Regions from separate parts of the Homo sapiens genome. Here region 1 is linked to region 2. The links come from fine-mapping of genetic effects on gene expression. A gene starts in region 2. The other region holds a variant in brackets. All regions are shown on one strand. Distances are between the middles of the regions.

Region 1 (16,705 bases), 51 kb before region 2:
ACTCTCTTTCCTCCTTGAGCTTTTCTTGGACACATTTCTGGCTTGGTGGGCCAAAGTCTGCTAAGAAGAAACTCATCTCTGTCCATCAAAGGGGGAAATGGTGAGGGCTGTATGCCCTGGGAGCGGCCACCCTCTCAGAAGACACAGAAACAGAGCACTTTAACCTCCTTCTATCAAAGTCCTAGAAGAGGAAGGTGTGCTTTAAAAACAGACTCTTCTCATGAATCCTGTTGAAGTCTCACTCACTCTGTTGCCTAGGCCGGTGTGCAGTGGCACCATCTCAGCTCACTGCCAGCTTTGCCTTCTGGGTTCAAGCAATTCTCCTGTCTCAGCCTCCCAAGTAGCTGGGACCACAAGTGCCTGCCACCATGCCCAGCTAACTTTTTGTAGAGATGGGGTTTTGCCATGTTGGCCAGGCTGGTTTTGAACTTTTGAGCTCAAGCGATCCACTCGCCTCAGCCTCCCAAAGTGCTGGGATTACAGGTGTGAGCTACCGCGCCCGGCCTTTTTTTTTCTTTCTTTTTTCTTTTATTAAGACAGGGTCTTGCTCTGTTGCCCAGACTGGAGTGCAGTGGTACAATCTTGGCTCACTGCAGCCTCAACCTCCTGGGCGCAACTCATCCTCCTGCCTTAGCCTCCCAAAATGCTGGGATTACAGGCATGAGCCTCCGTGCCTGGCAGTGGGATCCTCTTTACCTGAACTGCCCAGGGACCTCCATAAGTATCCCTGGCTGGGGGCCGTGGGTCACGCCTGTAATCTCAGCACTTTGGGAGGCTAAGGTAGGAGGATTGCTTGAGCCCAGGAGTTCAAGACCAGCCTGGACAACATAGCAAGACCCTGTCTCTACAAAAAAATACAAAAATTAGTGCATACCTGTGATCCCAGCTACTCAGGAGGCTGAGGCGGGAGAATTGCTTGAGCCCAGGAGGTTGAGGCTGCAGTGAGCCATGATTGCACCACTGCACTCCAGTCTGGGCGATAAAGTGAAACCCCGACTCTTAAAAAAAACGGGCTGGGCACGGTGGCTCACGCCTGCAATCCCAGAACTTTGGGACGCTGAGGCCGGCGGATCACCTGAGGTCAGGAGTTCGAGACCAGCCTGACCAACATGGAGAAAACTCCATCTCTGCTGAAAAAAAAAAATTAGCCAGGTGTGGTGGCACATGCCTATAATCCCAGCTACTCGGGAGGCTGAGGCAGGAGAATCGCTTGAACCTGGGAGGTGGAGGTTGCAGTGAGCCGAGATCGCGCCATTGCGCTCCAGCCTGGGCAATAAGAGTGAAGCTTGGTCTCAAAAAAAAAAAAAAGTATCCCTGGCACCTTCTCACAGACAGAACAGGGAAAAGGAGGGGCGGTTTACATCCCTGTGGAGCACAGCAAACCCACACAATGAGCCTTTCAGGTGTGGGGGGCAGGAGCAGGGCGGGGGCTGTCTCCCAGGGACCATCAGTCGGTTGGCTCAGGGGCTCAGGAGCCCAGGCCCGATGCCAGGAAGCTTCTCACCCCTAAGGAGAGGACACGCAGTCAGTCCGACTGGCAAAGTGGCCGGATCAGCGCCTGGCTGTGCCACCCCACATGGAGTGCCACACGCGGTCACAACAGCCCCATGACGTAGGTCCCAGTATTACTATTTTAGGGAAGACTGTGGTACACGCACCCGGACACACAGTTGCACATATGGCCACACAGGCCTCCACCTCTACTACCCAGACAAGTGCCCCAGTGCGCATCACACATGCACATGGGTGTGTACACAGCCTGCCCAGACACAGCCCTCCACAACACAGGGACCCACCCATGCACACACGCGTGTGCACACACACCAAGCAGACACGGCCCCTACACAACACAGGGACCCACCCATGCACACACGCGTGTGCACACACACCAAGCAGACACAGCCCTCCACAACACAGGGACCCACACATGTACACACTAAGGAAATGTGGAAACACTACGTGACCTCCGGTGGCAAGGCCATGGCTGGAAGCCCTGCAGCCTCTCCGGCTTCCAGGTCCTGATGCCAAGGCTGCCCCTCCCAGAATCCACGAGGAGGTCACCGTCCCCGCTCCGCACCAGGGAGGGGCTCCAGAAGCCCGGAGGCCAGCGCCGAGGTCCCCGCACGTACGCCTGTGTCCCCGGCTCTGGGGAAGGCAACCGTCCCTTAGGGGGCCGGGAACCTGCGCGCCGCCCCGACTCCCGCCCACCCCGGCGGCTCCCGGCGGCTCCCGGCGGCGTCCGGATGTGGCAGCAGCTCGCGGGCCGGGGCTTCCTCTTGCAGCAGCCGCCGCCCGGGAGGCCGGCAGCGCCCCCTGGCGGACTCAGGCAGGAGGCGTCCGGCGAGGCGGGCGCGGGGTAGGCGGGCGCGGGACGGTGCAGCCCGAGGCCTGTCCCTGCAGGTGCAGGAGGGACCCGTCGCTCCCCTGCGCACCGAGGGGGCGACAACCCCTCCCAGAGACCTGCTGCCCGCGGAGCCTCCCCCAGTGACTCGTGCGGTCCCCAAAGGAGAGGCGGGAAGCCGAGTCCTGGAGAAGCCTGGAGACAATGGGCAACAGGGGCATTGGGCCTCCGTCCAGCCCCCGCCAGCGCCCCAGGGTCACACATAGGCCTTTATTTTCTGATCCTGAAAGTGATGCAAGTGCATTTAAATTAACGCAGAAAGCAGTGACAGATAACGACGGGAAAACACACCTACACATCGGGTGTTCGTGGATAACCACTGCTCACCTTTTTTCGCGTTTCTCTTTCTTTGCCCCCTTCACACGTATTTACATATTTGAATCTACTATTTTATACTGGATTTTTTTTTTCTTTTTGAGGTGTAGCTTCACTCTTGTTGCCCAGGCTGGAGTGCAATGGCGCCATCTCGGCTCACTGTAACCTCTGCCTCCTGGGTTCAAGCGATTCTCCTGCCTCAGCCTCCTGAGTAGCTGGGATTACAGGCGTCCGCCGCCACCATGTCCAGCTAATTTCTGTATTTTTAGTAGAGATGGGGTTTCCCCATGTTGGCCGGGCTGATCTCGAACTCCTGACCTCAGGTGATCCACCCTCCTTGGCCTCCCAAAGTGCTGGGATTACAGGCATGAGCCACTGCGCCCGGCCTTATATTGGATTTTAAACATTAAATGGTACAATATTTTCCATTTCACAAAGTTCTTCCTCAGCTAATTTTAAATGACTGCTATTTCACTGAATAAGACACCACACTTTATTTAACTAATCTCTTTTTTTTTTTTGAGAGGGAGTCTTGCAATGTTGCCCAGGCTGGAGTGCAATGGTGTGATCTCGTCTCACCGCAACCTCCGCCTCCTGGGTTCAAGCGATTCTCCTGCCTCAGCCTCCCTAGTAGCTGGGATTACAGGTGCCCGCCACCACGCCCAGCTAATTTTTTGTATTTTTAGTAGACACGGGGTTTCACTGTGTTGGCCAGGCTGGTCTTGAACTCCTGACTTCGTGATCCGCCCGCCTCGGCCTCCCAAAGTGCTGGGATTACAGGCGTGAGCCACCGCGCCTGGCCAACTAATCTCTTAATTGGTGGACATTTGTGTCACTTATGGCTGTATCTTGAGTAGTACCACGCTGGACAGATTGCTTTTCCTAAATACAGTTTCTCAAAGCTGGAATTGCTGGGCTGAGGAGCCACCCCTTCTAAAGGTTCTTGACATTATTGCCAAATTGCTTTATAAAAAGGAAGGGCCAATGTTTGGTCCCATCAGGAATGACTGTCTCCGTACATCCTCAGAGGTAGTGAGTGTTACCGATTCCTTTTAAAAATTGGGGGTTTTGGTTCTCAACTTGATAGACCCATGAGAGTTCAACTTCATGTCTTTGACCACCACGCACGCAGTATGTGGTCCGATACGGCACGTCCACCGTGGATGTTGATGGGGACAGCCCCGTGTGCTCCAGTATGTGGTCCGATACAGCACGTCTGCTGTGGGTTTTGATGGGGGCGCCCCTGTGTGTTCTTTTTTTTTTTTTTTTTTTTTTTTTGAGACGGAGTCTTGCTCTGTCGTCCAGGCTGGAGTGCAGTGGCACAATCTCGGCTCACTGCAAGCTCCGCCTACCAGGTTCACGCCATTCTCCTGCCTCAGCCTCCCGAGTAGCCGGAACCACAGGCACCCACCACCACGCCCGGCTAATTTTTTTGTATTTTTAGTAGAGACGGGGTTTCACCGTGTTAGCCAGGATGGTCTCTATCTCCTGACCTCGTGATCCGCCTTTCTTGGCCTCCCAAAGTGCTGGGATAACAGGCGTGAGCCACCGCGCCCGGCCCCCTGTGTTTTCTTGAGTGCAGGGGGCAGAATCCATCCTGGGGAATTTGAGCAGAAAGGGACATGGTGAGCAGTGTGACAGCTCCCAGCTCCTTGCAGGACTAGAGGAAAGGCCTCCAAGCCCAGCTCTGCACTGGCTAATGAGCTTCCTTCTCTCAGCTTCCCTGGAAACATCTTTCTCTGCACACCCAGGAGACTCCATATCACCGGCTCGTCCTCACCGTGGGCCCAGAACCTGCTGTGCCCTGCCGGCCTGGGGAGGTTGCGTCTCCCTGGCAGAGCTGCATGCGTCCCAGCAGCAAGGAAGGCTGGGGATGTGGGATGTGGGACTGCCGTGCAGAGAGAAGACAGGATTCATGTTGTGGGGAGCTGTCAAAACGTAGAAAAATAGCCCCACTTTTGGGGCTCCCATGAAAGACTGGGGTCTTATTCATATGTTTGAGCCCCTTTGGAATTTGAAATGAAGCCGAGTTCCCTTCCTAACGACACAGAGCTCGCAGAAGCCGCCTCTTCTCTTGGGCGTCCACCGTCAGCTCTTTCTGGACTTTGTTCTTCCTGTATGTGTGCGGCTTCCTGCCGTTATCAAAGTCCAAGAATTTCATCAGTTTCTTATTTTGTTTTATTTTTTAACATTTTATTCATTTTTTTTTAAGATACAAGATCTTGCTATGTTTCTAGGCTGGCCTCAAACTCCGAGGCTTACGTGATCCCCCCACCTCAGCCTCCTGAGTAGCTGGGACCACAGGTGCTGCCACCGCACCCGGCTTCTTGATTATTTTATCATCATCATTATTGATTGAGCAATGGAAATCTGTAACTTATTTGGTGCTTTTTTTGGGTTCTTATTTCTTCAAGATTTGGAAAATTCTTCCCTACGTGCAGATTTGCTGGTGGGTTGAGCGCCTTCTTCCAGTTGGGGATTAAGACATGACTTCCAGTGGTACAGGCCGTAAGGAAACAGCCATCCAGAGAATTCAACAGCTCTTTCTCCGCTCTTCAATACAACATGACCTGTGGTCTTTTGTTCTTTTATTTTTTATTTTACTTTCATTTTTAAATAGAGACGGGGTCTCACTATGTTGCCCAGGCTGGTCTGGAACTCCTGGTCTCAAGTGGTGAGAAACAAACTCATCTGTCCAAACCCAGAAGAAGGACTCGGAGACCCGGAGGAGAGTGAAAGGGAGACTTTCTTTCTTTCTTTTTTTTTTTTGAGACAGAGTCTCGCTCTGTCACCCGGCTGGAGTGCAGTGGCGTAATCTCGGCTCACTGCAACCTCTGCTTCCCGGGTCCAAGCAGTTCTCCTGCCTCAGCCTCCTGAGTAGCTGGGATTACAGGTGCACACCACCACACTCAGTTAATTTTTTTATTTTTAGTAGAGACGGGGTTTCACCATGTTGGTCAGGCTGGTCTTGAACTCCTGACCTTGTGATCTGCCTGCCTCAGCCTCCCAAAGTGCTGGGATTACAGGCATGAGCCACTGCACCTGGCTGAAAGTGAGACTGTTGATGATGGTCTTGCAAGATCGGGTGTCTGATGGGCAGCCACAGCCAGCACAGTTTCAACAAATAATTTATCCCCTAGTGCACAGGTGTCTCCCCGGGTTCCTCACAGGCTGAGTACTCTGGGGTCACAGTCTTCTGGGACGTCACCTATTGGTTGTTGGGCAGGGGCTGTAGGTGTTTTTTTTAGGGGTGTCCTGTTGCATTTTGTTGCAGCCCACAATGCATTGCAATCCCAGTCAGCCCAGGGGCTCTTCAAGTATTTGACTTATGACCTAAGTAGCTGGGCAGGCTGATAAGAACAGACAAAGCCAGCTATTTTGCAGGCTAGTAAACTGTTATCTTAGACTAAACTTCTTTAGTTCAGGTGAGAGCACCTAAGGGCCGGGGGGAAGGGAGGGAGAAGGGGAGGCCGGCAAGCAGGCACTGGCGATCCAGGCAGGGGCCTCGGACCTCCTGTTTCTTCTGTAGTTTGCTGACTTAAGCCGATTCAAGGCACTTTGTCTTGGAAACGGACCACTGTAGACACTGTTGCCTTCACTCCCCGCTTGGCCTCCTTTGTTCTTCTAGGAGAAGATGCCTCGGCACTTTCACGAGTTTGGGGTGTGCACAGATGGGGCTTCTAGTAGGCTCCTGTGCCTTCGAGTGGCTTCCCAGACACCGCCTGGGGTTGTGGACCTGAGCCAGGCCAGTCCTCTCGCTGTCAGAGAAACGGCGTGCACTGCTCAGCTGCTCAGTCCTGGGCTTTGGGGGCTACGTGACATCCATTCCTGTCAAAAATCCATGGCGGCCATAAAGATTCAGCAAATGCACCGACGCTCAAACAGACAAATGTCCCGGCACTTCCTTTTGTGGTTGGGGCTTTTTCTTCTGTTCAGGGAAACATTTGTCTACCCCAAGCTTATAACAATATCCCAAGAATGGGGTTTGATCAGACTTCTATGTACACCAGTCTCACAGACGCCCTCAATAAGTGCTTTTAAAAGTTCTAGCCGGTCGCAGAGGCTCACGCCTGTAATCCCAGCACTTTGGGAGGCCGAGGCAGGCGGATCACGAGGTCAGGAGATCGAGACCATCCTGGATAACGTGGTGAAACCCTGTCTCTACTAAAAATACAAAAAATTAGCCGGGCGTCTTGGCGGGCGCCTGTAGTCCCAGCTACTGAGGAGGCTGAGGCAGGACAGTGGCGTGAACCCGGGAGGCAGAGCTTGCAGTGAGCCGAGATCACGCCACTGCACTCCAGCCTGGGTGGCAGAGCGAGACTCCGTCTCAAAATAAATAAATGAAATAAAATAAAATAAAAGTTCTAATGAAAGCCTGTGTCATAGCTTAATTGACAGGGGTTTTCTTTCAGGACAAGAGGTGCCTGCACCATCCCAAAGCCTCGGCTGCCGGGCCAGTGCTCTCAGACACGAGGCATCAGCTCGTTTCAGTGGAACAAGCTTTCCTCCTCACAAGATGCCAAGAACCCGCGCCACCCACGGGCACAGCAGGGGTTTGGAATGCAGGCATTCCCAGCTAGGTCTGGCGTGAGCTTAAACCACCCGTTGTTAAATCCTCATGAAAAGTCACTTACAAAGTTCTCCTGCATACAGAGTAGTGGAGGGCAGAGGGTGTCTCACAGGCCTGCTGGGCCCGTTGCACCCATACTCCTTCCCTCCCTTCTGTCCAGTCTCCCTCCGTGTCCCAGAGGACACCCCAGCCCTTTGGCCCCCCGCGGCCCAGGTGCAGTGGCCGAAGTCCAGCTCCCTGGGTCTTGCTCCGAGGCCGGCACAGTCTTGACTGGACCAAGAGAGGGTCTGGGGAGTGCATGGCCTTGTCTCTCTAAGCACATCCTAAGGAGTTCTCCTCCCACTTGGGGCCTTGCCCCAGACCCTCCCTCCTGCCCAGGATCACTGCTCCAGGCTGGCCACATTCACCCGATGGGGGCTCTGCCCCTCGCCCCAGGCCTGAGTCCTACTTCATTTATGCGGCTGCTTCAACAATGCAAGGAAGAGATTTGTAATGGGAAAGGTATTTTATTTCTTTTTGAAATTATTTCCAGCTGAATGATGTTAGTAAAAATACAGAGAGAATACAACAAATGACATTTAGTAATTTTTTCTGACTAACCCATTTTAGGGTTGTTTATATACAAAGAAGAATATGAACAAGAACAAATTTAATAAATAGCTGTAGCCTAATACACAACCGAAAGACCGTAACTCCAACAGCAGAGATACCCTGAGAACAGAATAAGGAGGTGGTGCTGAGCGTGTAAAATCCCAGACAACGACCCTCCCTGAGCGAGTGTCCTGAACATGACCACATTCTCGTCGCCGTCTCGGGACCTTCCTGCCGCCTGAGTGCACCGCCTCCCGCCCGGCTGTTGTCACTTGCACCCACAGACCTGCGGCTCACAGTGGGCCTGTCGACAGCCGGAGGCACCGTAAAAAACTGCAGGGAGGAGGCAGTCAACGAGTCGCTCAACTACACAAAATTAATGATGTTAACTAAGAAGCTAAAATAAATATCCTGTTTTCTTTTCTTTTCTTTTCTTCTTTTTTTTTTTTTTTTTGACGGAGTCTCGCTCTGTCACCCAGGCTGGAGTGCAGTGGCGCAATCTCGGCTCACTGCAAGCTCCACCTCCCGGGTTCACGCCATTCTCCTGTCTCAGGCTCCCGAGTAGCTGGGACTACAGGCACCCACCACCACGCCCGGCTAATTTTTGTATTTTTAGTAGAGACAGGGTTTCACTGTGTTAGCCAGGATGGTCTTGATCTCCTGACCTCGTGATCTGTCTGCCTCGGCCTCCCAAAGTGCTGGGATTACAGGCATGAGCCACCGTGCCCGGCCACTTTCTTTCTTTCTTTTTTTTTTTTTTTAAAAAAACAAAACAACTTTGGGTTTTATTTAAAATGCCCGTGGAGGTGGTTAGCGCCCCATTCTTCTGCTGTAGTTATTTCACCCCGGGAGGGTGTGGGCCTTAGCCATGTGGCCGTGATGGTCGTATCTGAAGTGTGAATACTTCCCCGCGCTATCTTCTAACCTGCGCTGTCTCAGCTTAGTGTGAACGTACGGACCGTTCTCAAATCCTGGTGAAGTCACTGGCAGTTTTTTCCTGCACACAGAGTAGCTGTGCTGTTTTTGAGCTGAGGGCAGTGTCATGCTGGGCTGCATCTGGCACATGGAGAGGACGGGCCAGTCGAGCAGGTGGCCTCCTGGCCGCTCACAGACTCTGCGCCCGCCAGACTGTGAGAGGGGTTCAGGCACGACACTTCCGGAGCTGTCATCTGGAGGAGATTCTCATCATTTTTTCCACCACTTAAAATAAAACCACTCAATGCCTTCTCCAGTGTACTCTCTGGTCTATTTAAAAATAGCAGCGCAAGTCCCACCACTTCTTATTTATAAAGGGAACAGCCAGTGAACATATTTTTACCTCCCGTGTCTGTCATCATGTTCTTGCCACTCATTGCCTCCAATTCCAAATAGGTAAAGAGTGAGGGCCGTGCCGCTGTGCCTGGAGTGGCAGGGGCAGCCACACAGACCTGGGGGTCCCTGAGCTCCCCCAGCTCCAGGGAGGACGCCCCAGGCATGAGCAGGGGCCGCCAACAGGACAAAGAGGCCACTCTGTCAGCCTCTGCTGGACCCCTGAGCTCCCCTCTCATGGGCCTCTCCGTTTGGGTGGCTCCGAGAGGCCAACTCCAGCCCCAACTGCAGGCTCCCAGGACTGCAGGGGCAGGGACTCTGGAGGTCCGTGTGCTTCGTGAGAGAGGGGACCCTGTCCTCCTAGCAGGGGTCCAGCGGCACCACAGCAAGACTTCTGTGGCCAAGTACACGCCATGCTCAGCTCTGCCCCCACCCGCACCCCCGGACCATCCTGTGTGCAGCTGGGCTGCCCCGGGACCCACACGCGCGAGGGGCACCCGGTGCTCAGGAGCCTCCACACACAGCAGCTCGCACTTAGAACCCACACGCCAAGCAGAAACCCCTCGAAGC[G/A]GGCTGGGAGCACGGACCCCTGATTTATAGAGGAGGCCCCGGGGGCCCTGTCGGGGGAGCTGTGGGGACCGGCCCCCCAGAGCTCAGCACAGCCCGGCCCTCCTTCCAGACACCAGCACTCGCATGTCCCAGCAGGTGAGGGTGGGTCAAACCTGCTGGATCTGAAGTTAATTGTTCGACTGGAAGGAAACCTGTGCGCTCCCCGGAGCATGACGCCACGCCGCCTCCTTGGCGCTGCAGAGCCAAAGCCACTGGCGTCTGCCGGGATGGACCTTCCCTGGAAGGAGAGACCTCAGCCCCGCGTGGGTAGGACGCGCCTGCTGAACGCCCTCTCAGGGCCGACACTGGAAAACACCTTCCTCTAAAGGAACATCCGAGTCAGAAAACAGGTGCTCGCAGCAGGCACCAAAGCGCCTTTGCGAACGCTTAGGGCTGTTTCAGGAAACCGCTCAGTAGCAAAGGCAGAAGATGCCAAGACACCTTCAAAAAGCAGGAATTAACTTTCCACAGGGAGGGCACCACCAAAAACAAGGGTGCGGGGCTGTAGGGCGACAGGCTGCATCGGTTCACGCTGAAAATCCAGCTGCTCCGGGGCCACTCAGGCAGCCGTGTGGCCTCACGGGTCCGGGTTTCAGAGGCCACCGAGTGGCCTGGGACGATGGATCGCGACACGGAGGTGCATGGCTCCATCATGGGGAAGAATGTGCTTTAAAATAGGTGCATGGAGGAAGAGCCTAAAAAATAGTCCAGAGTAGCAACAAAAACCATCTCGAGGCAATGTGACCACAGGTGGCTTTGATTTCCTTCTTGTGCCTCTAGACAGCATTCAAATATTCCAGCCTGAACATGCATTACCTCAGTACCTGAACAGGGCCGGAGTCGTGGGCCGTCTCGGGCCAGGGCAGGAAACACTTCTATGCTGTTCGGGAGGACGGAGGACAGACAGCGAGGCTCTCAGGTCACCGGCACCAGTGGCACCACCCACAGGGACTGCAGGGAAGGGCGGGCAGGCTCCCGTTCGTTCTCCCAGCACCCAGTTTCCAGACGAAGCCTCCCTGGGATCCTGGCTTCCCACGGCTCTGCACTGTCCCTTTCTCAGAACTTAACGTGGGCATTTCCTGAGGCCTCTTCCTCCGGATGAGCTGGTTTCGGCCTGGGATCCCAGCGTCCCCACACCCTCTGGTGACCACCACATGGCCCAGCAGCCACACAGCACCCGGCACCCACCTGGGCGTCTGAGGCTGGAGGAAGCTCTGCCCTTTCTTTCGAGTCATGGGGGTGGGGCGGTGTGCATCACTTTGGGCCCATGGATGGTGGGTGCCATGCGGCCACGTCAGAGCAGGGCATGGTGGGGTGTGGGCAGGGAGCAGTGGGAGGTGGCCCTGTGAGAGCTGGGGAGGTGTCCCAAAGTGCCAGCATCCTGCAGATCGAAGGGGACGCACACACCGTGCCACTGCGGGAGGTGTGAGCTCCACGCTGCAGGCTGTGTGAGAGAGGGGTGAGCCGGCGCCCCCGAGTGAAGACACAAAGAATCCCGAGGGCCTGGTGAGGCCACAGGCCCGCACCTCCCACCCCCATGGCCTCGTGGCTCTGTGGGGTGACAGGAACCCGACCCACATGTAGCTCAATCCTCCCAAGGTCAGCTTGTGAAGAAGGGAAAGAAAATTATGGAAACAGGCGTCTCTGTAGGGGATGCTCCAAGACGCATTTGGAGGCAGGAAAATGCCTGAAGTCCCTCAATGGGCGGATGTCACAGTGCTGGGCGAGCCACGGTGTGTACTCGGGGCCTCACTTTGGGAGCTCAGACGTGTCGCTGGCCCTGACGCTCATTGGTCTGAAGGACAAATCGAAGGCCCTCTGGTCACGGAAGCTCTGGGCTTTGTACTTGGCCAGGTGCCTGGACCTCCCGCGACGCTCGGGCTCCGATGCCTCCATCCTGTCCTGCAGGGCCCTCTCAGCCCCAGGGTGGTCTGGGGACCCCTCCTGGGCCGGGGCCTGGGGAGTCCCGCAGCCCCCAGCCTCAGGCTTGGGCTCAGTTGGGCTCTTTCCCAGCCCCAGGGGAGAGGTGGCAATGCTCTTGCCCCTGAGGGGGCGGCTTCCTGGGGGTGGGTACCCGGCGCTGGGCTCCCCCAGGCCACTGCCCCCTGACTGTCCACCATCCCTGGGGGCTGGGCTTCTGGACCCCCCACTCCTGCCAGCAGCATCCACTCCCTCAGCTATGCCACTAATGGGCTGCTCCCAGGCCCGAGGCGCCATCCCACTTGTCAAGGCCTGTTCCCGACCCTGTTCCCAAGCCCGTTCCTGAGCCCCTTTCTGGGTCTGCCTCTGAGTCTCTATCTGGGTCTGCTCCCAGCCCTGATCCCGAGCCCGATCCCGAGCCCATTCCTGAGCCCCTTTCTGGGCCTGACCCTGAGCCTCTATGTGGGTCTGCTCCCGACCCTGTTCCTGAGCCCGTTCCTGAGCCCCTTTCTGGGCCTGTTCCCGAGCCCGTTCCTGAGCCCCTTTCTGGGCCTGTTCCCGAGCCCGTTCCTGAGCCCCTTTCTGGGCCTGTTCCCGAGCCCGCTCCTGAGCCCCTTTCTGGGCCTGTTCCCGAGCCCGTTCCTGAGCCCCTTTCTGGGCCTGTTCCCGAGCCCGTTCCTGAGCCCCTTTCTGGGCCTGTTCCCGAGCCCGTTCCTGAGCCCCCTTCTGGGCCTGACCCTGAGCCTCTATCTGGGTCTGCTCCTGAGCCTGTTCCTGGGCCCGTTCCTGAGCCCCTTTCTGGGCCTGACCCTGAACCCGTTCCTGAGCCCCTTTCTGGGTCTGTTCCTGAGCCCATTTCTGGGCCTTTATCTGGGTCTGCCACTGGGCCTGTCCCTGAGCCTCTTCCTGGGCCCATTTCTGAACCTCTCCTTGAACCTGTTTCTGGGCCTGTCCCTGAATCTGCCCCTGAGCCCATTTCTGGGCCTGTCCCTGAACCTGTCCCTGGGCCCCACCCTGAGCTGGTTCCTGTGCCTGCCCCTGGGCCTCTATCTGGGTCTGCCACTGGGCCTGTTCTTGAGCGTGTCCCTGAGCCTGTCCCTGGGCCCAATTCTGAAACTGTTTCTGGGCCTGTCCCTGACTGTGTCCCTGGGTCCCACCCTGAGCCTGTTCCTGTGCCTGCCCCTGGGCCTCTATCTGGGTCTGCCACTGGGCCTGTTCTTGAGCGTGTCCCTGAACCTGTCCCCGGTCCCATTCCTGAACCTGTTTCTGGGCCTGTCCTTGGGCTGCCGGGCTTCCCGGCCCCTCGGGCTCCCCTGGAGGCACAGCTGGGTTCCTGGCAGCCCTGGTGCCCTCTCCCCACGCCGTGCTCCGCCCCCGCTCCTCCCAGGGTCCCTGCAGATGCTGCTGACCTTGGTCACTGCGCTGGCAGGCGCCCCCAACCCCAATGGCCATCCCTTTGTCCCCGGCCAGATCCTGTGCCCACCATGTCTGAGGCTCTTTTGCTGGGTTCAGCACAACCTTCGAGCCCGACGGCGCCACCCTCTTCCCCGCATCCCCGGGCTGGGGGGTCTCCTCCTGTGCCTGGTGACTCTGTTGCCTCCCCAGGTCCGCCTGTGTCAGGGGACGCTCCTGGGATTCACCTGCCTGCGTCCTAGGCTCGGGGACACTGGCCCGGAGCTTTGCCTGTGTGTCACCAGCAGTAGGGGGCAGGTGTGCCTGTAGATGGGGAGGGCCCCGCTGGTGGGTGCCACCTACCCACCCCATGTCCACCTCCGCGGGAGGCACTGCGGGAAGCAGATGGTCAGGCTCCGCCCCACGGGGAAACCTGACGCCCTCCCTGCCCTTTGCCTGTGGGTTCTCAGGAGGCGACGGCGGGAGGCCAGGGCCATAGCTGGGGGACTCTGCCACGCTCCTTGCCTGTGGCCTAGGATGATCAGAAGCAGGAATTCCAGACTCTGTGCTGAAACCCAAAAGGTTTCCTTCCACAGCCACATCCTTTCTGCCTCCTACAGCTGCTGTATGTCTGCTGGCTGCTGATGTGTTTGAAATGTATAATCGGGCCGCCTCTGGGTGCCGGGCGAGGGCCGCAGCATCCTCCGGGTGGCGGGCGAGGGTCGCAATGTCCTCTGGGTGCTGGACGAGGGCCACGCCTCTCAGGAGGCTCCTCCCTGCTGCTCCACTCTTGGGCTCCAAGGATCCCCCAGGGGCCAGGAGGCCGTGGCTGTGAGGGTCTCGAGGGAGAGCCTCTCCTCTGGGGTGGCTTTCGGACAAGGCTCTGCTTCCCCACTGGCCCAGCGTCTCTGGCTCTCCCGCTGTGCGGTCTCCAGGGCTCTGGGTGCTGCCTGGCGCTGGTGCAGGCGTGGCGCGGCTCGCAACGCTCCCTGCAGCTGCCATCGCCCCACAGGCTTTCATACCTGGTTTGGGTGGTTCATTTAATGAGGACAGTGGGTTCTCGCGAACATCATGGCTGGTGATTTCCTCGGCAGCCTTCAGGGGCTGAGAAGACTCTATTAGCAGCGGCCTTCTGCATTCCTCCAGCGCACCGGGCACTGTCATGCCCATCGGGGTGACACCCTCAGGCCCCGTACGCCCCTTGGATGATGCCGCCAGTGACGTGGGGGCTCCTGTTGGGTTTCTCCCAGTCGGGGACGGCACTTGCTGGCTGCTGGAGGCATGGCTGGTGTTTCCCCTCAGAAGGTTTTGTGAGGCTGCAGGATCATTTGTTGCGGAGCCCTTCTTCTGCATTGATATTTCATTAGATTCCGGCAACGGATGCTTCACATCTCTGAGCTCAGAGGTCCTCTCTCCTGAAATATCGTCAGGATTCCTGGGACCGTGTGAATTCTCAAAGCTGCCTTTGTTTTCCTTCCCGCCAGCAGGATCTGTCTGGAGTCTCTGTGTCAGAAGTGTCTCTGGGACACTGTGGTCGGCGCCCACAGCCCCTCTTGCTGCTGCCAGACGCGGAGCTGCCCGTGGCCCCTGCGGCGAAGAGGCGCTGAGTCCCGCCTGCATCCCTGAAAGCTTGCTCAGTTCCACTGGGGCTCGGTGACCCCTTCTGTTCTCAGTCACGGTGGGAAATTCTGTGTGGGCATTTTCAACCACATTCTCTCCTCCACAAATACAAGGTTTGTTTTCACCACTTGACATATTTTGCAGCCTGGTGGGAGGGGCTGGCATTTCATGGACAACTGGAATTTGGACAGTTATCCGTGGAGGCTCCGTGGCAGGCTGTGTTCTCCGAGCAGCCTGGACCGATGGAGCGTTCAGGGGTGGGATGTGCTCCGGCACCTTCTGTTCTGGGAAATACTTCTGGGTGGCAAAGAGGGGGTCTCTCCCTGGGTCTGGGAAGCCTGCTCCTTCCCTTTCATCCTCTGAACTGCAAACAGTCATGGTGATTTCAGGGCCCTCCCCTGCACACTCGCCTGGGGGCCCAGGAGGCCACGTGAGCCTGGCTCCCCTCACCTCCTGGACGCCTCCTGCGGTGCTCTCTGCGGTGGGGTCTGCAGTCCCATCACCTCCGGCTGATCCGGTGCCCCAAGGGCTGGCCGGTCCCAGTGGGGATGATGCAGGCACAAGGCCAGGAAGGACTCCACCTGTGCAGGGAGCACAAGAGAAGGCCAGCGAGGGGACAGCGTGGCCGTCCCTCTGAGCCATCACCTGGGGTGTCACGGGCTTCGAGGGCCTTGGCTGTCTTTGGGGCTCCTCCTCCAGGGGCCCCTTTCCCACTGCTTTGTTCCCACTGGGCCCCGTCTCCCTGGCACTAGGGGGCACGCTGGCTTCTCCTCTGGGTGGACGCCTTGCCTCCGAGTGGCTGATTTTGGTGCAGTGGGACAGCCAGCTCCTGGGGCCACAGACGACGGTGGCGATGCTGAGGGCCGGCAGGGGCTCAGCCGTGCAGGCCAGAAAGCGGGCAGGGGGCATCTTGACGCAGGTGCTGGCCATGGTGGCCGTGTGCAGCACGCGCACCTCCGGCCGGTGCATCCTCTTCCTCTGCAGGTTCCTCTTCTTCCGCTCCTGCGTGTGCAGCCTCAGCGCACTGGCCTCGGAGCACAGGCAGCTGTTCTGCTCGAACTTCTCCCGCAGCTTGGACAGCACCGAGCTCTTGCCCATGATCTTCGGCAAGAGGCCCCTGGCGGCTTTGGGCCGCTCCACAGGGGGCTTCTCGCGTGCTTCTTTCTCCTTCGCCTCCTTCTCCTCGGCGGCCAAGAATATCTTCAGGATGTTTTTCACGGTGCTCTTCCCGGCCGGGTGGCCCCAGCGGGGCTTCTCGCTGAGGCAGGGCTTTGGGGCCGGCTCCTTGGTCTTCTCCAGGAGCTTGTTGATGGTGGCACCCACGAGGCCCCCACCCGGCCCCTGCTTGTCCTTGGAGATCAGCCGGCCCACCTCCCTGGTCCTCTTGAGGTAGCGCTCCCGGCCAGTGCCCAGGAACTTGGCCTGCAGGAGCTGGAAGCGCGTGGGCCGCTGGGTGGCCTCCTGGGTCTGGGGCTGGTGGCTGGGCCTGCTCCCCCCGGCCTCTGTCCCCGGGGGCCGGTCTGCGCGGCCCGTGACGTAGAGCAGCAGGCTGCTGAGGATGGAGTGGGCGGCCGGGTCACAGGCCAGCTTGCCCATCTTCTTCTTCAGGGTTTGGGCGTCCACAGACATGACGTCACTGCAGGTCTTGCTGCTCTTCCGGCTGCAGAGAAAAAGGAATCATCACCTACTTCATCATCATTTTTCTCCAAGATGACTCTATAGAACATTTATCATGGGGCAATCCCACCTTTTCAGGGGCCCCAAAAGTCTGGTAGGGAGAAAAAGAGATTAGGAGCCAGGAGCTGTGGCTTCTGGGCTGTCTCTGCTGTTAATTCGGGGTTGGCAGGGATGCCAAAGCTTTTCTGGGTCACTGTTTCCTGTTAAATGGCAGGAACTTCTGACACACGCTCCTCCTAAGGGCATTGAGGAGTTGACATTGAACAGTTTAGTGAAAGCGTTTGGAAAACCACTTTGCATAT
Region 2 (12,117 bases):
TTATGTGTCTTGGCCAAAGCCAGAGCTGACAAAGGTGTTTGCCTGCAAAGCCCGAGCATTTCTGTGATTAAGTAACCCGCAGTGTGTGGATGGAGTCCACACAGCCTCTAAAATCAGAGCCCTGGTGCCTGGCCATGCCAGGACAGGCTGTGGCAGGCGGATGCCCACCAGGTGGGGCCGGCGAGGGCGCCCCTCCCAACGGCCACTTTAACACCCAGCAACTTGTTTTCATTTTGTACTAAAACTGCACTCTGGGCTTGCGGGTCAGCCCCGGGAGACGCCACTGCTCCCTTTTCCTTGGTGATGAATTCCCCACCTTTGGGGAGGGGAGGGGTGGGAATGAATGGGGAGAGGGAGGCGAAGATGGAGGCTTGGCCCACCCTCCATGGGGCAGAAATGGCACTTGGAAGCAAAAGACCTTCCTGCTGGTGGCTGGGGCCTTTTTCAGCCGCATCAGAGCCAGATGTCCTAGCATGGATGGGTTGGTGAGATTAGGAAGGGCACTTGGCAAAGTCACTCCTCCTCCAGGACATGAAACCTCTGTAGCTGCAAACCCCTGGCGAGAGCATACAGGGCCCCCATGGCTGCAAACCCCTGGAGAGAGCACGCGCGTGTAGGGACCATGGCTGCAAACCCCTGGAGAGAGCACGCACGTGTAGGGACCATGGCTGCAAACCCCTGGAGAGAGTGCACAGGATCCTGAGGCTGCACACCCCCCAGAGAGAGTGCTTGGGGCCCAGCGGCTGCAAACCCCACAGAGAGAGCGTGCAGGGCCCGGCGGCTGCAAACCTCCTCACCTCCTACCACAGAGAGAGTACGCAGGGCCCCACAGCTGCAGGCCCCCCCTCCCCCCTCCCCCCCAGAGAGCACGCAGGGCCCGCAGCTGCAAACCCTCCAGAGAAAACAAGCAGGGCCCCTTGGCTGTGAACCCCCTAGAGAGCGCTCAGGGCCCTGCAGCTGCAAACCCCCCAGAGAGAGTGCACAGGGCCCAGTGGCTGTGAACCTCCCAGAGAGAGCACTCAGGGCCCCATGGCTGTGAACCCCCCAGAGAGAGAGGGCTCCCGTGGCTGCAAACCCCCGGAGAAGTGCTCAGGACAAGGACTGTATGTTGTGTCCTCCTACCACCAGTTCCCTGACCCGGCCCAGCAGAGGCCTCTGAAGAGAGGGGCAGTCCTGGGAGGCGTGGCCGGCTGGCCTGTGCACAGTGTTGTCTACATGCACGGTGTTGTCATATGGGCACGGCGTTGTCTATACTCACAGCATTGTCTACTCTCACGGTGTTGTCTACATGCACAGTGTTGTCTTATGTGCACAGTGTTATCCACATGCACAGTGTTGCCAACACACCTGGTGTCTACATGCGCAGTGTTGTATGTGCATGGTGTTGTCTACACACATGGTATTGTCTGTCCTGCATGTATGATATTGTCATAAATGCATAGCATTGCGCTGTGTAAACACAGGGTGTTTACATGCACCGTGTTGTCATACAGGCATGGCTTTGTCTATATGCACAGTATTGTCTACACGCACAGTGTTGTCTACATGCACGGTGTTGTGTGTGCATGGTGTCTACATGCACGGTGTGTGTGCATGGTGTCTACAGTCACGGTGTTGTGTGTGCATGGTGTCTACATGCAAGTTGTATGTGCATGGTGTCTACACTCACGGTGTTGTGTGTGCATGGTGTCTACATGCACGGTGTTGTGTGTGCATGGTGTCTACATGCACGGTGTTGTGTGTGTATGGTGTCTACATGCACGGTGTTGTGTGTGCATGGTGTCTACATGCATGGTGTGTGTGCATGGTGTCTACAGTCACGGTGTTGTGTGTGCATGGTGTCTACATGCAAGTTGTATGTGCATGGCGTCTACACTCACGGTGTTGTGTGTGCATGGCGTCTACACGCACGGTGTTGTGTGTGCATGGCGTCTACACGCACGGTGTTGTGTGTGCATGGCGTCTACACGCACGGTGTTGTGTGTGCATGGCGTCTACACGCACGGTGTTGTGTGTGCATGGCGTCTACACGCACGGTGTTGTGTGTGCATGGCGTCTACACTCACGGTGTTGTGTGTGTATGGCGTCTACATGCAAGGTGTTGTGTGTGCATGGCGTCTACATGCACGGTGTTGTGTGTGCATGGTGTCTACACTCATGGTGGTGTGTGTGTATGGTGTCTACATGCACGGTGTTGTGTGTGCATGGTGTCTACACTCATGGTGTTGTGTGTGCATGGTGTCTACACTCACGGTGTTTTGTGTGCATGGTGTCTACATGCACATTGTATGTGTATGGTGTCTACACACATGTTGTCTGCACACATGGTGTTGTGTGCATGCACAGTATTGTTTTACATGACGCCATGTTCATCACCCCAGTTCTGAGTCAGGGAGGAGAGAGAATGTGGCAAGACTGTGGTTTGGGAGACACGAGTCCTGCAGTCTCATAGGAGAGGTGTGAGGGCTGCATTCCTGCAGGAATTAAGGTCACCTTCGCCTGCACCCGAAACCCCTGGATGGGGGTACAGCTGCGTGGCTTTGTCCAGGCTGTGTCTAAACCCAGTGTGTGCCCCTCACAGTCACCGGCACAGTGGATCCACAAACAGCCTTTCTCAACTCAGTCCTGGGTTAACAAGCCTAGCCCTTCCTGAGTCCCCTAAAAGGATTCATTTTATTCTGGAATTAGACATGAAATGTCTGTATTCAACTGAAATTTAGCCTTTTCAAAGCAAACAGAAGCCATAAAACAAAATGGCACAAACAGCATTGTCTTTTCAGGTTAGAATTTAAGCGAGAAACAGATTTTCAAAGCTGCTACCCTTGGGCTTCTCCCCGGGTCTCTTTCCTTTGGGACACTCCACTCCTGTCTCCTGTCTTCCCTGTCTGGTCTCCTGAAAGACAAATCAGTTTCTAAAGCTGCCTGAGGGGCCGGGTGCAGTGGCTCACACCTGTAATCCCAGCACTTTGGGAGGCTGGGATGGGCAGATCATAAGGTCAGGAGTTCGAGACCAGCCTGGGCAACATAGTGAAACCCCCGTCTCTACTAAAAATACAAAGTTAGCCCAGCCTCTCAGGAGGCTGAGGCAGGAGAATCGCTTGAACTCAGGAGGTGGAGGTTGCAGTGAGCCGAGATCGCGCCACTGTACTCCAGCCCGGGCAAAAGAGTGAGACTATGTCCCAAAAAAAAAAAAAAAAAAAAAAAAAATGGTGCCTGAGTCTCCCAACCCATGTCTCAATAAAGAAAAGGCAAAATACTAACATCCAGTGATCTTGTAGCAAAATGTCAACTGTTTCCAAACGTTTTCTGCCATGAGCTGAAGTGCCACTCCCAGTTATCAGGGCCCCGGGAGAGGCTGAGAAGGTGCTGGCCCTGTGCCCTGGAGGCTGTGGCCAGGTGACACCTCCCGCCATCCTGCTGGGCCCTGAAGTTGGCTGAGTGAGCCTCAGGGCAGAGACATGTCAGATGTGCCTTCGGCCACACGGGCCTGCACCAACTTCCCACACTGGCCTAAGTGCTTCCTCACACTTTGCTGGTTGCTCCGTTTAATCCTCTGTGACCTTGTGAGGGAGGAAGGCCCTGGGAGGGAAGCCACTTCCCCAGTTTTCCCAGGGAGTGGGGGTAGGGAGCTGGGAATGGCCAGCTGCATACCCGAGCAATGGCCGAGCTCTCTGTGCGAGGCCGCCCCTCCCCAGGCCTGGCACACACACACACCTGCTAAACGCTTGCCAAGTGACTTGGTGATAATGCGCTGGCAACATGGGCTTGTCGTTTCAGGGCCATGGATGCCACCTCTCCTATGTGTCTTGTAGAGCGCTAGACACGGCTACTTCCTGGTTCAGAGTCTGCTCTCGTGCCCTGTTCAGAGAGGCTCACCCGGAAGGAGGCAGCCCCAGTCAGAGAGGCTCACCCGGAAGGAGGCAGCCCCAGTCAGAGAGGCTCACCCGGAAGGAGGCAGCCCCAGTCAGAGAGGCTCACCGGGAAGGAGGGACCCTGTTCAGAGAGACACACCCGGAAGGAGTGAGCCCCGGTCAGAGAGGCTCACCCGGAAGGAGGGAGCCCTGTTCAGAGAGACACACCCGGAAGGAGGGACCCTGTTCAGAGAGGCTCACCCGGAAGGAGGCAGCCCTGTTCAGAGAGACACACCTGGAAGGAGTGAGCCCCGTTCAGAGAGACACACCCGGAAGGAGGCAGCCCGGTTCAGAGAGGCTCACCCAGAAGGAGACAGCCCTGTTCAGAGGCTCACCCGGAAGGAGGGAGCCCCGTTCAGAGAGACACACCCGGAAGGAGGCAGCCCGGTTCAGAGAGGCTCACCCGGAAGGAGGGAGCCACACAGGCTGCCCCGACCCTCAGACCTGTGCTCACTCTAGCAGCAGAGCCAGGGTTTGCCAGACCACACAGCCCCGTGGCTCGTGGGGTGAAGGACTTTTCAGTGCAGCTTACTTAAAGCTGCCAAACGTAGTTCCATTTGTAAAAGTCTGCCTGTCTTTGGAAAGCATGCTGAAGAGCCCCTGCACACTGCAATTGTTAGGATACCTGCAGGCCACCGTGATCTCAGCAGTCAGGGAGGATGCTTACGAGCACAGGGGCCAGATTCTCTGGTTCCCGTCCAAGCTCTGCCACTCGCTGGGCTGTGTGGCACTGGGCAAGCGCCTGAACCTCTCTGTATGTCAATTTTTTCTCCTGTAAGATTGTGATAAAATCAGCCTCCACGGTGATGTGAGGAGCATGTGTGGAGGATAACATGCGTGAAGCAGCTGGAACAATGCCTGGTACAGAAGTGCTGTGGAGTCAGCACTCACCATTGTCGTTTTGTAGAGATGGAGTCTTGCTATGTTTCCTAGGCTGATCTAGAACTCCTGGGCTCAGGCAATCTGCCCACCGTGGCCTCCCACAATGCTGGGATTGCAGACGTGAGCCACTGTGCCCAGCCCTCACCATTGTTAACACAGCTTAAAGACCCCCTTCCATAGGCTACAATTTGTTATTTAAAGAACAAAGATAAACTTAAGTGAAATTTCGACTTTGATTTTTAGTGAGTTGAAAAAAATCTGCTTGCTTTGGTTTCTAGAGGGGTAAGCTGTAGGGACCAGCCCCACAGGGTCGGTGGGTCTCTCCCTGTGTGCAGTGACGAGAGAGTGTAGAAATAAAGACACAAGACAAGAGATAAGAGAAAAGGCAGCTGGGCCCGGGGGACCACTACTACCAATGCACGGAGACCGGTAGTGGCCCCGAATGTCTGGCTGCACTGTTATTTATTGGATACAAGGCAGAAGGGGCAGGGTAAAGAATGCGAGTCACCTCCAATGGTAGGTAAGGTCATGTGGGTCACGTGTCCACTGGACAGGGGGCCCTTCCCTGCCTGGCAGCCGAGGCAGAGAGGGAGAGGAGACAGAGAGAAAGACAGCTTATGCCATTATTTCTGCATATCAGGGACTATTAGTACTGATAGTACTAATTTTTCACTAATTTACTACTGCTATCTAGAAGGCAGAGCCAGGTGTACAGGATGGAACATGAAGGCAGACTAGGAGTGTGACCACTGAAGCACAGCATCACAGGGAGACGGTTAGGCCTCCGGATAACTGCGGGCGAGCCTGACTCATGTCAGGCCCTCCACAAGAGGTGGAAGAGCAGTCTTCTCTAAACTCCCCTGGGGAAAGGGAGACCCCCCCCCCCTTCCTGGTCTGCTAAGTAGCAGGTGTTGTTCCTTGCCACCTTTTGCTACTGCTGGACCACGATCCGCCTGGTAACGGGCGTCTTCCCAGACGCTGGCGTCACAGCTAGACCAAGGAGCCATCTGGTGGCCCTGTCCGGGCATAACAGAAGGCTCGCACTCTTGTCTTCTGGTCACACCTCACTATGTCCCCTCAGCTCCTATCTCTGTATGGCCTGGTTTTTCCTAGGCTATGATTATAGAGCGAGGATTATCATAATATTGGAATAAAAAGTAATTGCTACAAACTAATGATTAATGATATTCATATATAATCATATCTAAGATCTATATCTGGTATAACTATTCTTGTTTTATTATACTGGAACAGCTCGTGTCCTCTGTCTCTTGCCTCAGTGCCTGGGTGGCTTGCCGCCCACAGTAAGCAATTCCAGGGGTGATCTTGGATGCGTATTTTCTCATGACCCACAAACTAGACGCTGCAGCAGCACAGTGAACCCTCCCTTCCAGTCCACAGCTGAGGACCCTGAGAGCTTAGAGCAAACTTACTTCCTCCTTAAGAATAGCGCCCCATGGTGGCTCACGCCTGTCATCCCAGCACTTTGGGAAGCTGAGGTGGGTGGATCACTTGAGGTCAGGAGTTCGAGACCAGCCTGGACAACGTGGTGAAACCCCGTCTCTACTAAAAATACAAAAATCAGCCGGGCGTGGTGGTGGGCACCTGTAGCCCCAGCTACTCAGGAGGCTGAGGCAGGAGAATCACTTGAACCTGGGAGGTGGAGGTTGCAGTGAGCTGAGATCACGCCACTGCACTCCAGCCTGGGCGATGGAGAAAGACTCCGTCTCAAAAAACAAACAAAAAACAGTGCCCTAAACGTCCGTAACCCTTTTAACTGTGTGAATTTCGTGTCCTGTTGGGCCGATCTCCGTCGGTGCACTTTTGGAGTGTCCTGTGCCGCTGCCCTCCCTGCGGGCCTGGCAGGACCAGACCCACAGCCATGGACGCTGCCATTTACAAAACGCCCACCAAGTGCTACCAGAAATGGGACATGCAGAGCTGGTATGAGCGCACACACGGCATCAGACGCCCAGAGGAAGCCAAACTCAAGAGTGAGCTCCAGCCGTCTACGGTGAAAACAAGCCGGAGCTGTGTCCCACAGGTGTCTGTGTGTGGGGTGCACCTGTTCTGGGCTGCGGGGCACAAGCATGGGGTTGCTGGTCCTAAGGGCACACGAGTGGCCGCCTGGAAAACCAGAAGCAGGAGCTCCTGGACGCCAAGGCTGTGAACAGTCGGACGCCTCCCCGTCTCCAGCAAGCCGGGAGCCTTATCTTATCGCCGGCGCTTCAGCTCTCCCGTTATTTAGGGACCGGCCACAGGCTCGATGGCATTCCTCTGCTGTGAGCACAGAACTAAACTGGGCACGTCCATGGCAGATGAACAGAATGGTGGAGTGAACGCATAAGTGAGATTTCATTGACTTAGCTGCAGCCCTCAGATTTTAATTCTGCCATGATAAACAGCACCCACGGGGTTTTGAAGAGCAAATGCCTCGTAGGAAAGCTGGACTGCATGTCTGTGCACCTGCCATTTCCCTGAAATTCATGCAAAAGCTTGATCCTAAAATCAATTTGCTACTTAAAGGTATTTTAAGAAGCTTTGTCTCCAATCTCGTCCAATCAAGTTTATGTCATTTTCTTAGAACACATTTGTGTATGGGCAACTCTCCAAGCTGAACCATTTTGGGAGATGATATTCTAACTTTAATTCATTGGAATTTAGAACTAATCCCCAAACAGTATTAATGGGTTCACATTTCAAACTGGCTTATTTTACATCCCTTTGTAATGAATTCAGAACAAGAAGGCTTAATCTCTGCAGCGAGAAGTGAGCCCTCACCCTACTCCCACCAGCACGGCCGAGAGAGGCTTCACTGGCTTTAACTCTATTAGAAACAGAAGGTGCTAGGCCTAGTTAACGCTTTACAAATACAAGTGAAAAGTCACGTTTAAAAACTGAATCTTAATAACTGCAAAGTAAAGTAATACTGTCACCCTCAGAGAAACCACAGGAGAAACGTGATCTGCCGCATATCAAATTTGAGGGACACTCAGATTAAATTGCCACTTTTAGCAGCGGTATCAGGTAACACCATCCGCTGAAGGACCGCACTGCCTTCAAAGCTCTCGGAGGCTTACTGGGAGAACTCGAGCAGCCAGTGTTCCCTCCAGCCCGCACACCGGAGCGCGGTGGGCCCAGCCTACCTGTGGTGAGGGCCTCGGCGGTTGCGATGTGCATGATGGTGTTGTCACTCACGGGCCATTCTCCTGGCGAGAGTACGAGGTGGTCCAGGCCCCCGGAACGTTGCAGCTCCTCCTGGATCTTCATGCCTACAGTGCTGTTCTCCTTGCAGACATTTCTGTAGCCAAGAGCATCGCCGACGCTCCCCAGCAACATCGCAGCCTTAAATTTCTCCATCCCAGGAGGCAGCTCCTCTTCCCCAACAGCTGCGGAGCGTCCTGGCCTTTGTCTCCTCCTCAGCCCGCCTGACTTTTATAGTGGTCACTGTGTCACTGTCAGGAGCGTCCTCTGATGGCCAGGCGCTCCTTGTCTATCTCTGCAGGTGGCACCAATGAGAGGACCTTTCTGTCCCCCACGTGGGAGGTGTCAGTTTTCTTCTGCGTCTGGACAGGCACCAGCTCCTCAGCAGAGGAGCCTGCTAGCTTCTGCCGGCAGCCGCAGCACATTCAGAGCGTTGACAGAGCAGGGGCTCCTCTCGCTGTCCCTGGAAGGAGTGCGCACACTTCCCCGTGTGTGGCGTGGGGTGATGCGGGAGCAGATGTGTGCAGGCGTGCCTGTCACTGCCGCCCGCTGCGGGGCGTGCCCTCACCCCTCGGGCAACAACCCATCTGCTGTCTCTACAGTTCTGCCTTTCCTGGACATTTCAAATACAATGTGTGGCCTTCGGTGTCTGGCTTCCTTCACTCAACATAATGTTGAGATTAATCTGTGACATGCGGTTTTATCATTTAGAAAACTTTTCGATTATGAAATGTGTTTTTGATAGAAAACTTTTAAAAAATGCAGTGTAGAGGGAACAAAGTCTATCTAGCTCCTGTGTGAACAATGACGGTGTCTTCTCAGCATGCGGTGTTTAACGGCTCCCAAATAATTGGACTGCACTGAGGGGGAAAGTCGTCAGCAAACCGCAGGCTTCACTAGAACCTCCCATCCGGCCCTCGGTCAGCTCAGTGTATTTACATCATCCCTGCTAGCTCATGAAAAGAATATTAAAAAATATGGAGACGGGGGGTGAGGCAGAATGCACACAGCCAGGGTTCCTGGTTTGAAATAAATTAGGAAAACAGTCCATCTCCCGACCCCACCCCAGGACAGTTCTCCGCAGAGGCCGGGAGCCCAGCAGGGCTGTGTCTCTCCCGTCTCCTTCCTCGGGGCCTGGTTTCCATCAGACCCAGGGGAAGCAAAGAGTTACACCTGGACTGAAGAAATGCGTCTGATAAAAACTCTCGTAGTGTACAGCGAGACAGTAGGAAGCATTTAACCGCCTGGCGTTATATCAGCACTTGTTAAAACGGAGGATCTCAAGCAGTGAGTTCACCTCACCCTCCACTGTCTGCTGGTGGAGGCAGCCATCAGCACAGTCATGCCAGCTAGCATGATCCTGAGATTCAGAAACAAACTTCAAAACCAGCATGCAGGCCGGGCGCGGTGGCTCATGGCTGTAATCCCAGCACTTTGGGAGGCCGAGGCGGGCGGATCCCCTGAGCTCAGGATTTTGAGGCCAGCCTGACCAATATGATGAAACCCCGTCTCTACTAAAAATACAAAAATTAGCCGGGCATGGTGGTGGGCACCTGTAATCCCAGCTACTTGGGAGGCTGAGATAGGAGGATCACTTGAACCTAGGAGGCAGAGGTTGCAGTGAGCCGAGATCACGCCATTGCACTCCAGCCTGGGCAACAAGAGCAAAACTCTGTCTCAGAAACAAACAAACAAACAAACAAAACTCCAAAACAAAAAACAGCATGCACGCAGGGTCCCTATCCAAACAAGACAGACAGGAGGGGCGGCCCTTCGTTCAAACTCTCACCTGTTTTAGGCACAACTGCACTGTGGGGCCGAAGCGTGTGCTGCTGAGGGGATTAACACAGCCCGCTCGCTGAGCGCTTCAGTTCGCAGGCGGCGGAAACCTTTGCCAAGAGCACTAGCTGGCTCCCTCAGCAAACAGGACGGGATAAGGTTAGCTCGTTTATCCAACAAATATTTGCAGAGCCCCTACTTTGTACCTGAAACTGTGGACACAGCAACAAGGATCAGAAGAAAGTTTATTCTTGGCCCCAAGAAGCCTGAGGTCTAAAATGGATATAAACTTCAAGCGAAAATAACACAATGACATGTACAATGTCACTGAGAGGAGCTGGCGTTGTTGATTCCGGAACGCTGGCAGGTGCACCGTGAATCGGCAGGTAGCACATGATCCTCAGACCCCCGTGCTTGGCCGTTTGCCTCCGATAAGGGACGGTTTCCAGCAGTTTGTGCTGGCACACATGACCTCCTGCCCCGACACACTCCCGTAAATCCTGCCTATTGTGAGATCTCTCATTCCTCACATGAGCCACCCCATCAGGTGCACGGTGCACCGCTGAGAGGCAACGCAATGACAGAAGGTACCTGAGGACCTGGTTACCTGGCCAGGGCTGGCGGGCCACACACGGGGGCAGGGGCTTGCCCGCTGGTTGCTAGCTGGGGGCTGTTCTCTCATCCTGGGACAATGACGTGGATGCTGACACCTATAGGCAGACATCCCTGCAGCTGAGGAGAATCGAAAGGAAACCACGCCCGAGAAAAACCAATTTAATGCTTCTGTTCTCAGCATTTCACAGCATGCAGGACTCAAATGGATACAACAGAAGAAAAAAACCCACAATTTTTGGAAAAGCCTTTGTCCAATGATTAATATTTTGATATCTATTGACAATCCCTTAGAACTTTAAATCTCAAAAACAAAAAAGTACTGTGGATCTCCATAGTTTATACAGAATTATGTGAATTCTATAAACTTTTCTGAACAAAACAATTACATGTCAAGAATCCATGAAGCCTGGAAGATACGCTCACGTTTTTGAGGTTTGTATTAATGCCAGTTTTTATTGTATTAGACAAATGCTCTCTGAGAATCGAAGACTTCTAAAGGTAGACAGGCCCAGTTTCCCATTAGAGTTCTGGAAGCAGAGCCTGGGGAAGGTCTGTCACTTGCCCATCACTGGACCAGCCAGAAGCCAGCGGGGGCCAGGCGGGGTCTGCAGGCTGCAGGTCCCTTCCAGTCCTGTCCCTGCTGCCCTCTGTGACCATCTCTGCTAAGAAACATCGACAGTTCGTCCTGCAGCCTCCAAGCACACTAACCTCAGCCATCAGATGTTCCTGAAGCCCAGGGTAAGTCCTGTTCTCAGAAGCCAACCCAGCTGCTTGTCTGGGCCATGCTCTCTCACACCGCAGCTAGGTCATCTGCGGCGACTCTCCTCTGTGCTGGGCAGCAGCTCCAGCTGGTCCACGTCCTGCACAGTGCTGCAGGGGGGCAGCAAGGCACGCCTGTGACATGAGAGTCTCGGCACGTGAGGTAGGGTCAACAGTGATGTCCACAACTCAATACCAGCCCTCCACACCTCGGCAGCACTCGTGGGTCCTCCTCAACCAGGCGGACACGAGAAACAGATGATAACATGGTGCAAGGACAGACTTCAGCTCACCAATCAGATGAAGGTTTTGGGGTTGGGTTTTTTCAGACAACGATGTACATTTTAGCTTCCAAATGTGCACAGGGGCACAAAGGTCTGGATGCTGGGCACTACGGGTACCACAAGAGGATGGAAAGAACCAGCTCATTCGGTTTTATTGTATGTATGTATGTATTTATTTTGAGACAGAATCTCACTCTGTCGTCCAGGCTGGAGTGCAGTGGCGCGATCTCGACTCACTGTAACCTCCGTCTCCTGAGTTCAAGCGAATCTCCTGCCTCAGCCTCCTGAGTAGCTGGGATTACAGGCATGTGCCACCATGCCCGGCTAATTTTTGTATTTTTAGTAGAGACAGGGTTTCACCATGTTGGCCAGGCTGGTCTCAAACTCCTGACCTCAGGTGATCCACCTGCCTCGGCCTCCCAAAATGCTGGGATTACAGGTGTGAGCCACCACGCCCGGCCTTGATTTTAAAATCTATAATTCATCACTCATAAAATAAATGTTTTTCATGGAAAAATGTCTTTTTAAATGTAATTAAAATATATTTTAAAAAAACATACTTTATGAAGCTTCTCAGGCAGGTCAAATAATATTTAAGTAAGAGAGGCCCAGTGATATATAAACGGTGTGAGATAAACTCTGCTGGAATCGTGCCACGTGTGCCGTTGCTATGCAAAGCTACA

Direction of the effects. Positions count from the first base shown, and alleles are read on the strand shown. Sizes are in standard deviations (SD) of each study's normalised expression.
As copies of G replace A in region 1, the expression in monocytes after LPS of the gene that starts at base 8,204 in region 2 goes down (moderate effect, 0.59 SD a copy in Quach 2016).

Evidence for each region. PIP is the estimated chance that this variant, and not a neighbour inherited with it, causes the effect.
Region 1: its variant is fine-mapped to the expression of ADPRHL1 in monocytes after LPS (Quach 2016, PIP 0.95).

Annotation. Positions count from the first base shown.
Region 1 is chr13:113,391,835-113,408,539 of GRCh38, forward strand. ADPRHL1 (ADP-ribosylhydrolase like 1) reads right to left here. Exons shown (of 8, transcript NM_001394807.1): 8 at 7,777-16,386. The coding sequence ends at 11,544. Among named protein-coding and RNA genes, the nearest start is that of GRTP1, 36 kb to the left of the region's middle. RefSeq lists enhancers at 1,629-2,170, 13,546-14,340, 15,458-16,143 and silencers at 2,088-2,437, 2,448-2,557, 6,200-6,494. The variant G/A (reference allele first, on the strand shown) is at 9,756.
Region 2 is chr13:113,445,285-113,457,401 of GRCh38, forward strand. It overlaps ADPRHL1 (ADP-ribosylhydrolase like 1), which reads right to left and starts at 8,204. Exons shown (of 8, transcript NM_001394807.1): 1 at 7,940-8,204. The coding sequence starts at 8,153. DCUN1D2 (defective in cullin neddylation 1 domain containing 2) reads right to left here. Exons shown (of 7, transcript NM_001014283.2): 7 at 10,535-12,117. RefSeq lists enhancers at 606-1,547, 3,875-4,234, 6,236-6,737, 10,734-11,664 and a silencer at 807-906.